2 linked regions of the Homo sapiens genome follow. The protein of the gene in region 1 interacts with the protein of each later gene in a biochemical or structural test. Each region holds a gene or a part of one and is shown on either strand. Other genes may lie near its edges.

Region 1 (7,095 bases):
AAGGCAGTCCAGAGGAAGCTTGTGTGTCATGGGTGGGGGAAGGCATGAAGGGCCAGAGCCTGCACAGAGGACCTGAGAAGCCAAAACCCTACCAGAGTTGAGCTTCAGCACCTCCTGCTGCAGATTCCTGCCTTGTTTGTTGCCTATGTGAATTTGACCCAAAAAGCCTCGGGGTTCCTCGTGGACCCCACAGCGTTGCAATCCTGACCCTATTAGAGAAGCCCACAGGGTCTGGAAGGAAGGGCAGGGGGAGCCCCAGTCCCCGGGCCTGGGCCCTCATAGTGCACCTGTCCCTCAGCTCGGTGCATCAGCAAAGCGTGGGTGTGTGATGGCGACAATGACTGTGAGGATAACTCGGACGAGGAGAACTGCGAGTCCCTGGCCTGCAGGCCACCCTCGCACCCTTGTGCCAACAACACCTCAGTCTGCCTGCCCCCTGACAAGCTGTGTGATGGCAACGACGACTGTGGCGACGGCTCAGATGAGGGCGAGCTCTGCGGTGAGGCCTGGTCCCAGGAGAAGGGTAGGGAGGGTGGCTGGGTAGGAGTCTGGGCCAAGGACAGTCTTTGGGGGACCTGAGTCTAGGAGAGAGCAGCTCTGGCAGCCGGGCAGGCGAGCAGCACCCAGAGTGGTCACCAGCAGCCTGTGTGGACCTGGCGCTCCCCATGGCGCTGTGCTGAGTGAGCCACGCCATTAGAGCAGTTTATCCACAAGGCATCCCTGGGGGCCAGGTGCTCTGTTTTCTCCGTTTGACAGATGGGAGCACTGAGGCATGGAGGGGTTCCATAGTGGTCCCCCAGACTTGGGCCAAGGTAGTACAGCTCCTAAACTGCTGTGGAGACTCAGACCCCTTGCCCACATGCATACCACAGAGAGATGCGGAGTGCTCTTGTGGAGACAAAGGCACCAGGGTTGACTGCTGATGGTCAGGGCAGGCTTCCTGGAGGATGTGGGGATTGCATGGGGTTCCCAAGGACAGGCAGTACTTGCAGAGTGAGTGAGAAGGCATGGGGGCAGGCGCGGTGGCTCACACCTGTCATTCCAGCACTTTGGGAGGCTGAGGCGGGCAGATCACTTGAGCTCAGGAATTTGAGATCAGCCTGGCCAACATGGTGAAACCCTGTCTCTGCTAAAAATACAAAAATTAGCCGGACATGTCTGCAGTCCCAGCTACTTGGGAGGCAGAGGCAGGAGACTCGCTTGAACCTGGGAGGCGGAGGTTGCAGTGAGCCAACATCCTGCCACTGCACTCCAGCCTGGGCGACAGAGCAAGACCCCATCCCAAACAAACAAACAGGCAAGGGGAGGAGGGTGCCCATTCAAGACCAAAAGAGATGAGGTTGGGGGAGTCCAGGAGTCAGGGAGGACCATGTGGTGTGACTTGGGGATGAGGAGCAGAGCAGCCTTATCTGGTCCTCTTAGCCAGGCAGAGCCCCCAGTTCCTTGGAAGGGAGGAGTGGAAGATAAGGCCACAGGGACTGGCTGGGAGAACTGCCGACAGGCTATCAGTCAGGCTGGCAGTTTCCAGGGTGTGCCAGAGGACCAAGGGTGGTATAGGCCCTGCTGCACCCCACCCCAAACCCCTCCAAATCAGGAGAGATCAGCACAAGGGGACTGGACCTAAGGACCTCCCAGGGTCCCTCCCAGGGAGGCAAAAAGCTGGGGCCCCCGCCCTGGGCCCAAGAAGGCAGGAACATATCGAGACCAGACAGAGATATTGAGGGGTGCTCCCTGTGGGAAGGGGAGGTATGGTGCCAGCTGGTGGGTGCAAGGGTCCCAACTCTGGTCCTGAGGGAGCCCAGGAAGTCCTGGGCTGAAGCTCAGCCTGAAGCTCAGCAGGAATGGAGACGAATGGGGCCGTGGGCAGGGCACAAGGACTTGGTCCAGGCTGCCCAGGACTTGGGGCCCAGCAGGGCCGTGGTCTTGCCTCCTCTCAGCTTCTGACCCTGGGTCTGTTCCATGCCTGCCCCTCCCCTAGACCAGTGCTCTCTGAATAACGGTGGCTGCAGCCACAACTGCTCAGTGGCACCTGGCGAAGGCATTGTGTGTTCCTGCCCTCTGGGCATGGAGCTGGGGCCCGACAACCACACCTGCCAGATCCAGAGCTACTGTGCCAAGCATCTCAAATGCAGCCAAAAGTGCGACCAGAACAAGTTCAGCGTGAAGTGCTCCTGCTACGAGGGCTGGGTCCTGGAACCTGACGGCGAGAGCTGCCGCAGCCTGGGTGAGACAACAGTGAGGTGTGGTGGGGCAGGCCGAGGCAGGCCTCTGAGCTGCAGTGGGTTGGGCTTGGTGGCCAGGTGCCAAAGGCTGAGTTTTCCACCCTAGCCCCCAGTGCCCGGACCAGCAGAGACCTGCCTGCGCCAGGACGGGTGGCACACAGGCAGCTAGCCCCTTGCTGACCCCATCACATCCCTCCCATCCCAGACCCCTTCAAGCCGTTCATCATTTTCTCCAACCGCCATGAAATCCGGCGCATCGATCTTCACAAAGGAGACTACAGCGTCCTGGTGCCCGGCCTGCGCAACACCATCGCCCTGGACTTCCACCTCAGCCAGAGCGCCCTCTACTGGACCGACGTGGTGGAGGACAAGATCTACCGCGGGAAGCTGCTGGACAACGGAGGTGACCACCGATTGCTGCCAGGCAGGATGCACACAGGCGGAGCGCTCAGGCGCTAGGGGCCACAGGTCCCATCCAAGTGGCCCCAAAGCAGAGGCTTGGCTCCCCCATCCCCCACACTTCTGTTCATTGGGTTAGATTTTGCTGTGGGTCTCCATGCCTGACGCCCCGTAATTATCGTCAGCAGAACTGCCAGCCTGATAATTAACAAAATGATCAGCCTTACCTTTGAATGGCCTGGAGCTCTGCTCCCCAGATCTAGAATTGCAGGCTTGAAAGAAAAAAGCCACTTAGGAGTGGCGTACCTGAACGCTGCTTTCTGTCCCAGGCAGCGTGGTGCACCCCAGACTTCCTTCAGTCACACACAATAGTGAGTGCCCACTGTACACACTGGGCAGTGGGCATGCAGCAGTGATCAAAACAGGCTGTTTTCAGTTGTGTGGTCAAGGAAGGTCCCCTGAGAAGGTGACATCTGAGCAAAGGCTTCTAAGAGGCACATTTTACTAGAGAAGTTTGTATTGTTTGTAATAATACAAACTTGAATTTGAAACCATTACAAATGTCCATCAACGAGGGGGGAGGCTAAGTAAACTGTGATGATATCCACACTGTGCAACAGTCTCTAAAACAATGAGGCACACACATAATGTATTAGCATGGAAAAATCTTTATGGCAGTCACTTGAGCTCAAGCAGTTGAGGCTGCCGTGAGCCATGATCATGCCACTGCATCCAGCCTTGGTGACAGAAGACCCTGTCTCAAAAAAAAAAAAAAAGTTGGGGAGACAATAGGAGTCCTACTCTTGAATATGGGCACATCAGAAACTTTGGCAGAAGTGCCAGGGTTGAGGGTGGGTCATCGAGGGCTCCCAGGATTTCACACATTCATGCACAGCTCCCCAGGAGACGCTAACCTTTCACTGCCCTCTCTTCTCCAGCCCTGACTAGTTTCGAGGTGGTGATTCAGTATGGCCTGGCCACACCCGAGGGCCTGGCTGTAGACTGGATTGCAGGCAACATCTACTGGGTGGAGAGTAACCTGGATCAGATCGAGGTGGCCAAGCTGGATGGGACCCTCCGGACCACCCTGCTGGCCGGTGACATTGAGCACCCAAGGGCAATCGCACTGGATCCCCGGGATGGGTGAGGACCTTGCCCAGCCTTCTCCTGGCCCCATGGCCCCCCTGAAGTCCCATTCAGCCTGGCCAGGGACACCTTACTCCTCAGTGCCATCTGCCTCCTCCCACCCTCTACCTACGATCCCACCACAGTCGCTCCCTGAGGGCCCTGACTTTAGCCCTCCTGACCCCTCCCCACTCCCCAGGATCCTGTTTTGGACAGACTGGGATGCCAGCCTGCCCCGCATTGAGGCAGCCTCCATGAGTGGGGCTGGGCGCCGCACCGTGCACCGGGAGACCGGCTCTGGGGGCTGGCCCAACGGGCTCACCGTGGACTACCTGGAGAAGCGCATCCTTTGGATTGACGCCAGGTCAGCACCCTCTGTGCCCTGAGAAGGCCCAAGTCTGTGGCACCAGGACGGGGTGGGGAGGAACCTGTGGTGATGAGGGTGATGAGAAGGACCAAGGGATCTAGAACTAGGAACGGTGGCAAAGGACTGGGCACAGGAGGAGGAGGACGGAGGGGCGTGGGGAGGCCAGGGCCGAGGGGAGGGGGCAGGTAGAGGAGGCGGAAGCAGGGCCATCAGCTGTGGTTATTCACACTGTACCATCCTCTCCACTCACCTGTCCTCTCCACTCTGTTCCCTCTGCTGGGGCTGTGTCTGCCCAGAGGGAGGGGAAACTTCTTTCTAATTGGTCTGCCCAGGGAGGGTGCCTTTTTCTTTTCTTTTTTTTTTTTTTTTTTTGAGACAGAGTCTCGCTCCGTCGCCCAGGCTGGAGTGCAGTGGCGCGATCTCGGCTCACTGCAGGCTCCGCCCCCCGGGGTTCACGCTGAGGGTGCCTTTTTCTGACTTTCATCAAAGCCCTGAGTGCTGACAGCAGCCCTGGGGAGAAGTGACCGAAAGATTCCCTTGGGGCTTGGGAATCGGGGCCTGAGAGGTGAAACCTGGACCTGTTGGGTTCTCACACCTTGGTCCTTCTGTCTGTCTGCTCTGGCCAGCAAGGCTTAGGGGAGGGAATGGTCCCATGCTCTTCGCTGGGAGGGCTGTGGCCAGGGCCCAGAGGGTGGGCACCTGGGCAGAGCTCTGAGGGCTGAGATCCCAGCTGGCATCCTCATTCTGCTCCATCATGCTCTTAGGTCAGATGCCATTTACTCAGCCCGTTACGACGGCTCTGGCCACATGGAGGTGCTTCGGGGACACGAGTTCCTGTCGCACCCGTTTGCAGTGACGCTGTACGGGGGGGAGGTCTACTGGACTGACTGGCGAACAAACACACTGGCTAAGGCCAACAAGTGGACCGGCCACAATGTCACCGTGGTACAGAGGACCAACACCCAGCCCTTTGACCTGCAGGTGTACCACCCCTCCCGCCAGCCCATGGGTAAGGGGCTCGGGGCCTCGAGCAGCCGGAAGGGAGCCAGCAGCCTCTTTAGAAGCTGTAGAAGCTCTTAGGAGAGGAGAGGGCAGTGAGAACAGGAGCAAGTCTGTGCTGGGATGGCAGGGGTAGGCCGGCTGTTGACAGAGGCACTGTCTAGCAGCAGAGAAGGGTCTAGTAGTAGCGGCTGCTGGAACAGGGGGAGGAGAGTGGGCGAGGAAGGGGTGGTCCATGTAGGGAGCAGCAAGTCACAGGATGCTCTGGCTTCTTCTCTTCTCCACCCTGCCCCCAGCTCCCAATCCCTGTGAGGCCAATGGGGGCCAGGGCCCCTGCTCCCACCTGTGTCTCATCAACTACAACCGGACCGTGTCCTGCGCCTGCCCCCACCTCATGAAGCTCCACAAGGACAACACCACCTGCTATGGTAGGAGCCCCTCCCTCCAGAGCCAGTGAGCAACTGAGGCTGGAGGGAAGGCCGCAGGCCCCAGGATCCCGGTTGTCAGCTAAGGCAGAGTCCCAGTCGGGAGGGTCCCGATAGGAGAGGCTCCAGAGACAGCCACTGTGAGAAGGGGCTGCAGGTCTGCCAGGGGGGCTGCACCCAGCGGGGTATGTCCACGGAGCCAAGGGCCAGTAGCAAACAGACGGATCCAGAAGAAGGCAGGGCCTGAAACCGGATTGGTGGGAAGCACAGAGGCAGGGACTGCCTTCAGTGACCAGCCCATGCCCCACAGAGTTTAAGAAGTTCCTGCTGTACGCACGTCAGATGGAGATCCGAGGTGTGGACCTGGATGCTCCCTACTACAACTACATCATCTCCTTCACGGTGCCCGACATCGACAACGTCACAGTGCTAGACTACGATGCCCGCGAGCAGCGTGTGTACTGGTCTGACGTGCGGACACAGGCCATCAAGCGGGCCTTCATCAACGGCACAGGCGTGGAGACAGTCGTCTCTGCAGGTTCTTCCTGGCCCTGGATGCCCACCAGTGGACATGGGCACCTCCACCCGCCCCTTGCTCCCAACCCTGGTCTACTTGGTCCGAGTGGTCCTTCTCCCAGTCCTGTTCCCCCTCAGTGCTCCAGCCTGGTTTCCTGATCCCTTTTCTCCAGAAGGCACACTGGCTCCCCTCCTGACCCACTGCCCTGCAGACACCCAACAACTGACTCCCTACTTGTGCCCCCAGACTTGCCAAATGCCCACGGGCTGGCTGTGGACTGGGTCTCCCGAAACCTGTTCTGGACAAGCTATGACACCAATAAGAAGCAGATCAATGTGGCCCGGCTGGATGGCTCCTTCAAGAACGCAGTGGTGCAGGGCCTGGAGCAGCCCCATGGCCTTGTCGTCCACCCTCTGCGTGGGTCAGTCTAGGGCCCAGGGCCGGGGAGCATGGGGTGTGGGGCTGGGAAGAAGAGGACCCTGACCTTTCCCTCTTGGCACCCTCCCCCCAGGAAGCTCTACTGGACCGATGGTGACAACATCAGCATGGCCAACATGGATGGCAGCAATCGCACCCTGCTCTTCAGTGGCCAGAAGGGCCCCGTGGGTACGAGCTTCCCTGCCCACCCCCACAGCCCCTCCCTAATTCCTTGACCAGCAGGTGCTTGCAGGGTCCTTCAGTTGCCCCTCAGCCTCCCCAGAGCCCTAGCTTAGTGCCTGTTCTCACCATCTGCTCCCTTCCCTGGATCCCCAGCCCTGGGCCAGACTCCCCGGCAGTGACTCCCCCTTTTCCAGGCCTGGCTATTGACTTCCCTGAAAGCAAACTCTACTGGATCAGCTCCGGGAACCATACCATCAACCGCTGCAACCTGGATGGGAGTGGGCTGGAGGTCATCGATGCCATGCGGAGCCAGCTGGGCAAGGCCACCGCCCTGGCCATCATGGGTGAGGGCTGCTGGGCGAAGCAGAGATGACGCAGAGCAGGCCAGGCCAGACCTACTGGGAGACAGGGGCTGGCTTGGGGCAGTCTCTCACCATGTGG
Region 2 (7,712 bases), on another chromosome or scaffold:
CTGGACACTCAGTAGCACATTAACAAGGAGTGCCTCTCATGAGAAGTAATCAGGCGCAAAGAGCCAGGGAGCAGCGTGGGAGAAGAGATGGGGTCAGCGCCTTCCCCAGAGATGGGGTAGGGGGCGGAGACCGGGCTCACCAGGAAGGCTGTGGTCTCACGGGCTCTGCCCCAGCTGCCCACTGAGCCCTGAAATGCCTCCAGCAGGAACAGAGCCTTTGTCATGCCAGAGAGACAAAGCCAGCCAGAAACACCTCTCTGCCAGGGGCCCCTGAAAGCAACAACTTCTGGAAAAACCCATTCAGAACTAGGTTCTGACCAGAAGACAGGGTGCTGGGCCATGAAGAATGGGGCAGCCAAAGGCAAGATACAGGAAAGGAATTCCAGACTCAGCAGCGGGCACAGAGTCTGCTCCAGGGAGCCTGGGGTCCCTGGTGAACCATCCAGCTCAGACCTGGGAAGGAGGTCGTTCTCTCACCCAACCTCTCTACCCTAGCGGTGAGGCTGAAGCCCAGAGAGGGCATGGGACTCCCTAGAGTCCACAGCATGCTCATGGTAACCCTGGGATGAGAGCCCAGCCCTCCCGACCCCTAGTCCAGTATTCTTTCCTTGATTCCAAGTCACTTAAATATCTGAGCCTCAGTTTCTTCATCTGTAAAATGGATCTAATCCAGACCTCAGAGAGGGGAATGTGTTCTGTAAACACGAGGGTCTTATGTAATCATAGTAAATTCTGACTACTTCCAAATTAGACTGAGGTCTGAGGCTGGGCATTGGCAGTGTCTAATCAACATGTCTGGAGAGGGGCAGGAAAACCGAGACAAGCACACAGAGGCCACCTGTGGTCCCCCGGACTGTGTGGCTCTGCTTTGCTGAAATGATTGACCACTTTTTAAAGTACTTATGAATCACTGCAGGGCTGGTTATAATGTTGGTTCTGAGACTGCTTTTCCAGCCAGTCTGCAGGTGATATGGATGCTGCTGATCCAAGGAATGTTCTAGAACCGTGACTGCACAGCCGACCTCCTTTCCTTTGCTCGGACTCACCTCCCCCCTCATCTCCTCTGCCTCCTGGGAGCCTGGCTGCCAGCTGCCCTGGGTGGAAGAGCCATGCCAAGGCCAAGGCCCTCGAGTCCCCAGCACTACCACACAGCCTCATTCTCCCTAAGAAGGCTTAAACCACTTGGCCTTGCTCCTTCTACCAGAAAAGGCCGGTTCTGTGGACAAAGGGGCTGCTCAGGGGAAGAGGAGGAGGAGAAGATGGCGGGGGGTGGGGGGCAGGGGGGGCGGGGGGAGCAGGCAGACTTTGGGAGCAACTCCCCTCCAGGCACACCCTCCTGGGAACTTTGAACTGAGCAGCTTCCCAAAACGTTTCCAAGCAGGGCAGGGCTGGAGGCTTAAGAAAATCAATGACCTGGCAGGGCGCATTGATTCACACCTGTCACCCCAGCACTTTGGGAGGCCAAGACAGGCGGATTACTTGAGATCAGGAGTTCGAGACCAGCCTGGCCAAGGTGGTGAAACCATGTCTCTACTAAAAATACAAAAATTAGCCGGATGTAGCAGCATGCGCCTGTAGTCCCAGCTACTCAGAGGCTGAGGCATGAGAACTGCTTGAACCCGGATGGCGGAGGTTGCAGTGAGCCGAGATGGCGCTACTCTACTCCAGCCTGGGCAACAGAGTGAGACTTGGTCTCAGGAAAAAAAAAAAAAAAGAGAGAAAAGAAAGAAAGAAAATCAATGACTGTGAACAGGGAGCCGTGGGGAGGATGGGAAGACAGTGAAGAGGGCACACAGATGGTGAGGGTTTCAATCCCAAAGCCCCGGCTCCTATCTGCTTCTTCAAATGGAGAAAACTAAACCAAAAGGAAAATAAGAAAAATAATCACCGGTAATTCATATCACCCAGAGGCAAAGGTTAGCACTGTGGTATATTTCCTTCTGTCTTCCATGCAGTTTATACAAGATTCTTCACATTCACCATCTTCAAATATTCTTTAAGGGCATACTTTTATGGCTATGTAATACTCCACTTACTCACGGACCTAAGTTTATTTTACCATTCTCACAAGATTGGCCATTTCAGTTGTGCCCAATGCTCCACTATTATTATAACTTAACATTTTCATGGGCATCTTTTTTTATATAGTATCTGTACTTTCCTTTAAATTCCTAACCTCTCCGTTTAAAAAATAATAATAAAAATCATATTTTTTTTAACTAGGTCCAGAAATTCTGGAAGGTCAAGAGGCTTTGGCTCGAATCCCAATTCTGATACTTATTTGCTGTTTAGTGTTGGCACCAGTCCTAAACCTCTCCAGGCCTCAGATTATCATCTGTAAAATGAGACTGTGGAATCAGAGGTCTGAGGCCTGGTGGATCTTGTGTGACTTTTCTCTGATGCACCTCAGATGCATTAGGAGGCAGAAAAAGTCGGATTTCGGTGGTTGCAGCATATACTGAAATCCGCAGCCTCATACTTACAGGCAACAGTGTCCAGAGAGCTAGAGAATTTAGAAGAAAACTAGATGACTCATGCATGCAAGCCGAAAGCCACAACTGAGAGATCCGCATCTTCGCAGAGGATATGCTGCAGGAAGGAGCTCGGTGCAGGCCAGCTCTGTCACCTGCTAGCCTGGGTCTCCCGCAACGCGGCAGGTCTCCAGGTCTCAGTTTCCCCATCTTTGCGAAAGGATGATCATTATATCTGTTCTATTTACCCCCCCACCACAGAATTGTGGTTGGAGCTCGTGCTCTCAGGCGGCGGTTGCGCCGGGGCCCCTGGCTCAGCTGCCTGGTGATGGGGCTCCGGCCACCTCCCCTCCCTGGCTTCCTGGGCTCCGTCGAAAGCGCAGGGGTTGTGACTGCGAGCTGTGTCATCCCTCTCTGCCTGGCTGCCATCCCCTGCCCGCCCATCCGTCCTGGTGTGGCTCTGCTCAAGGGTAGGGAAGACGGGGACATCTCACCGGTCAGCGGCACCCTGTGCCCGCGCGCTCCTCCTGGCGACGCCGCGTTGTGGGCACTGGGAGGCGCCGTATTTATAGCGCTCTGCTCGCGCACACACCCCCTTTGGGGCTGGCTGCAAACCTGCATGACTCACGCCCAAAGAATGCCGCGGAAAGCAAGGGGAGCTTTCTGGAAGCCGGGAGGTGGGGGCCGGTGCAGCACCGGGCTGGGGGCGCCGGGGGGCGCATCATCACCACGAATAGCTGTGCTGGCTCCAGGAGAGACCCTGAGGTGCGGCCGCTCGGCGCTTCCAGTAGGGAAGAGCCTGAACTCGCGTGCCCATCTGGGAGCCCCTCTCACGCGGTTAGCCCGGCTGTCTGTCCCAGTCCAAGACACAATCTCACAGTTCCCTGGCCCTACTGACCTTAACCTTCACATTACACAAGCGCCACTTCTCTTGACCCATTTAAATAGTAAAGAGTCAGACATAATGAGGGTGGGATGGAGAGGGGCCTTGTGCTGGAGAAGAGAGCACAGGAAGTATTGAAACGCCTACTCCTGGAAACATCACACTGATGGGGGTCCCTGGACTGACCCGCCAGGCCTGGAGGAAACAGAATTGTGTTTAGGAGTGATCAGAGCAGATATGTGGAGAGCCAGAAGGCCTCTCCGGGGTCCTTGATCCACAGAGCTTAAGCAATCACTGTCCCCATCTTTTTGGAACCCAACCAAGCAGGGTGGGCTTCATGGCTGTGGGACCCTTGCAGATCCACGTTTGGTTTAATGGGCTACTGTGACGGTCTTGAAATTCTTCATAGTTTTTGAACCAGTGGACCTGAATTTTTATTTTGCCCTGAGCCTTCCCAGTTAGGAAATCAGATCTGTGTCCAGAGGGGTTTGCTGGTCTCCAACTGCTGGAGTTCCTTCTGCTGAGAGCAGGGAGAATCTCCTGTCGCAGCCACCCCTCCCCCTGGCAAGGAGGGGCAAATCTAGGAACCCTGGAGGTGCAGCTACTTCTTGGGGAAGAAAGTGAGCTGCCCATTTTGGAGCCAGGGATGTTTAAGCCCCAGGAGAGAAGTCAAGGGGCTGACAGCTGGGGCAATGGGTGGACAGGGCGGGTACAGGCAGCCCCACTGTGGGTGGCAGACTTTGAAAACCATGTGAAACAAAGGGGCTTAAAGGAGAGCTGCGTGGTCAGGGGCTGAGTTTTCCAGTTCAGGATCAGGACTATGGAGGCACAACATGGAGGCCCAGTCCCTTGCTTGCCCAACGTCCAGGGGCCACTAGGACCCCAGTCCTTTTCAGGAGGCAGCCTCGGGGAATCTTCAAGGCCCATGACTAAGTGGGAGAACCCAGACCAGGTCCATGAAAGTCTGATTACAGTCCTAGGTGTGCCCCTAGACACTGGGTGACCTCGGACTAATCACTTTGCCCTTGGGCCTCAGTTTCTTCCATCTGGACGATGAGGAATCGGGAATGGATCATCTCCACGGCTCCCTGCAACCTAACCTAGAGCCAAGCCAAGTATTAGAAGGCCATTAACCCAGAAGAAGAAAAAAATGTCCCAGAAGAGGCTACACTTTATTTTTCTTAAAAAAAAAATGTCTAATTATCAGTAACAGCTACATTTTCTGTGGACAGTGCCTGCTCCTTATCAGTGCCTGCTCCTTATCAATACCTGAGGTTAGAAGAATTGTTTTTGAGCTCGCTCCTTGTAACTTTTCTGTTCTGTAGCTCCCTCAGCATCCGGAACAGAAGGCATAAATCTAGTTATATTTTTAAAAATTAGACTTTGGAGGTCAGTCAGTGAGATCCGCCTTAGCCAGCTGAATTAGGGGAAGGGAAGAGAGGAAGAAAGGACTTGGGAGAAAATAGCATGATTCACAGATTCACAGTCATGACTGTGATCCCTTGGGAATAATTACTTGATTATTCCCACTACTAAGCAAACAAGGTTCAGAAGGTCAAACTTTGAGGAAAGAAAAGTGTAAATTTTGAAAGCGCCATAAATGCATCACCAGATGTTTCATATTCTAAGCAGATCATAGACATTGATTGGTTCAGGACTCACACACTGCTTGATTCCTACCCCATCCCCAGCATCTGCACCCGGTGGTCATCCTGCCCATGTTTGAATGCCACCAATAACAGGGAGCTCACTACCTGCCATGCAACCATTTGTCTAGTAAAGCTGTTGATAAAGTTAGGGCCTTCTTTGGTTGAGTCACAGTCTGGCTCGTGTATGGGCCAATCCGGAGCCCAGTTCTGCCCTCTGGAGCCACACAGAGAAAATCCAGCCTATCTCTCCCATAGTGCCCCTTCTGATATTTGAAGGCAACGTAGTCTGCTTTTCCCAGTGACCTCCAGGCTTGCAGCTCCTTGCCTTGCCGTGGTTTGCAGACTTTTCCCCAGCCCTTTGACATTCTGGACCTCATCTCTCTTGAAACCCTTGGCCCAGCCCTGGACTAGCCAATGCCAGTGGGGAGCCTTGGACCAGCCAATGCCGGAGGGCCTGAGCACACAAAGCAGAACAGGACCACCCCTTCCCTTGCCCTAAACACTCCAAATAAGCTTTATCAGATGCTGAGTCACTGGGCTGATTCATAGAGAATGCATCATCTTCTTGGCAGGTGCTGCTGTTTGATCCTCTGTCTCCCATTATGGACTTACACAGCTGGGTTTGGGGCATTAGCTTGATTTATTTTCTTGGAGAGTCAGAGCCATGGGGAGGGCCAGGGAGGGATGAGTAAAGACCCTTGCATTTATCTGTTTATCTATGCTTTGTGCACCATCTCTGGCTGCCTGAATGTCTCTGGGGCTGCTTCGCTACGCAGTGTCCTTATTACACATCCCCAACCAGCCTTTGTCTGGCTCAGCACCACAAGCAGGACAGCTCAGCCAGCAGTCTGATACAGCTGGAACAAACTAGGAATGGGCAAGAGCAGTATCCTGTGGCCTGTGATTAAGAATCACTCTCAGATGGGCGTGGTGACTCACACCTGTAATCCTAGCACTTTGGGAGGCTGAGGTGGGAGGATCACTTGAGTCCAGGAGTTCAAGACCAGCCAGGGCAACATAGCAAGACCCAGTTTCTACAAAAATTAAAAAATTAGCCAAGCATGGTAGTGCATGCCCGCAATCTCAGCTACTCAGGAAGCTGAGATGGAGTATCGCTTGAGCCCAGGAGGTCAAGGCTGCAGTGAGCTACGATCGCACCACTGCACTCCAGCCTGGGCAATAAAGTGAGACCCTGTCTCTCAAAAATAAAAATGAAAAAAATAAGAGAATCACTCTCCAAGGGGAGCAGGGAGGGAGGATGGTGAGAGATTGGTCAACCAGTACACAGTTAAAGTCAGATGGGAGGGATAAGTTCTGGTATTCTATCGCATAGTAGAGTTTAACTTTTTTTTTAGGTCCCAGTATCTATTGCTCCCCTCTATGTGTCCATGTGTTCTCATCATTCAGCTCCCACTTATAAGTGAAAACATGCAGAATTTTGTTTTCTGTTCCTGTGTTACTTCACTTAGAATAATAGCCTCCAGCTCCATCCATGTTCCTGCAAAAGACATGATCTCGTTCTTTTTTATGGCTGCATAGTATTCCATGGTGTATACCGTAGTATTCCATGGTGTATATATACCATATTTTCCTTATCCAGTCTGCCACTGATGGGCATTTAGGTTGATTCCATGCCTCTGCTATTGAGAATAGTGCTGCAATGAACATATGAGTGCATGTGTCGTTATGGCAGAGCAATTTATATTCCTATATATACCCAGTAATGAGATTGCTGGGTGAAATGTTAATTCTGTTTTTAGCTCTTTCAGGAATCATCACACTGCTTTCCAAAATGGTTGAACTAATTTACACTCCCACCAACAGTGTATATAAGCCTTCCCTTTTATCCACAACCTCACCAGCACCTCTTATTTTTTGAATAATGTATATTTCAACATAGGTAGAAGAGAGAACTTACAATGTTCTCACCACAAAGAAATGTTTGAGATGGATTTGGTAATTACCCTAATTTGATCCTTACACAATGTGTGCACGTATCAAAACATCACATTGTACCCCACAAATATGTACCATTCTCGTGTCAGTTTTAATTTTTTTTAACTTAGTGAAAGGCTGGGTGCAGTGGCTCACGCCTATAATCCCAACACTTCAGGAGGCCGAGGTGGGGAGATCACTAGGTCAAGAGACCATCCTGGCCAACATGGTGAAACCCTGTCTCTACTAAAAATACAAAAATTAGCTGGGCATGGTGGCACGCGCCTGCAGTCCCAGCTACTCGGGAGGCTGAGGCAGGAGAATTGCTTGAACCCGGGAGCTGGAGGTTACAGTGAGCTGAGATCGCACCACTGCACTCCAGCCTGGCAACAGAGTGAGACTCCATCCAAAAACAAACAAACAAACAAACAAAAGGATGGATTTGCTAATTACCCTAATTCGATCATTACACAAACGATCTTAGTAAAAAGATCACAAATGATTCTTAGTAAAAAAGAATCACTTTCCAAGCTGTAATTATTTAATGGGTATATACATTTATTTAATCAATTACAGGCCCATGATCAAATGGTGGCTAATAAAATCATATCCAGTGAAATCAGCCCATAGATGATACAGAGGTATTCTGAGTGATTTTCTCCGGACCTCCGTAAAGTCCAGAAACATTCACTCCATCAGTGGGTGTGTCTCATCTCCCCATTCAGGATCTTCTTGGGTAAAGGTCTGAGGCTAGCCAATCCTGAACTGTTTAGC

The links. Proteins that work in one complex are often made in the same cells at the same time.
Region 2: the proteins of LRP1 (region 1) and CLU form a complex in vitro, tested with the Homo sapiens proteins (one study listed by BioGRID).

Annotation. Positions count from the first base shown.
Region 1 is NC_000012.12:57,173,482-57,180,576, forward strand, and holds part of LRP1 (prolow-density lipoprotein receptor-related protein 1 preproprotein), read left to right. Parts: intron 1-298; coding exon 299-499; intron 500-1,978; coding exon 1,979-2,224; intron 2,225-2,427; coding exon 2,428-2,625; intron 2,626-3,559; coding exon 3,560-3,764; intron 3,765-3,945; coding exon 3,946-4,110; intron 4,111-4,877; coding exon 4,878-5,122; intron 5,123-5,408; coding exon 5,409-5,540; intron 5,541-5,847; coding exon 5,848-6,075; intron 6,076-6,300; coding exon 6,301-6,475; intron 6,476-6,565; coding exon 6,566-6,660; intron 6,661-6,848; coding exon 6,849-6,998; intron 6,999-7,095. UniProt on the Homo sapiens protein: Endocytic receptor involved in endocytosis and in phagocytosis of apoptotic cells. Required for early embryonic development. Involved in cellular lipid homeostasis.
Region 2 is NC_000008.11:27,611,690-27,619,401, forward strand, and holds the start of CLU (clusterin isoform 1 preproprotein), read right to left. Parts: upstream 3,012-7,712; 5' UTR 2,966-3,011; intron 63-2,965; exon of another isoform or gene 1-62.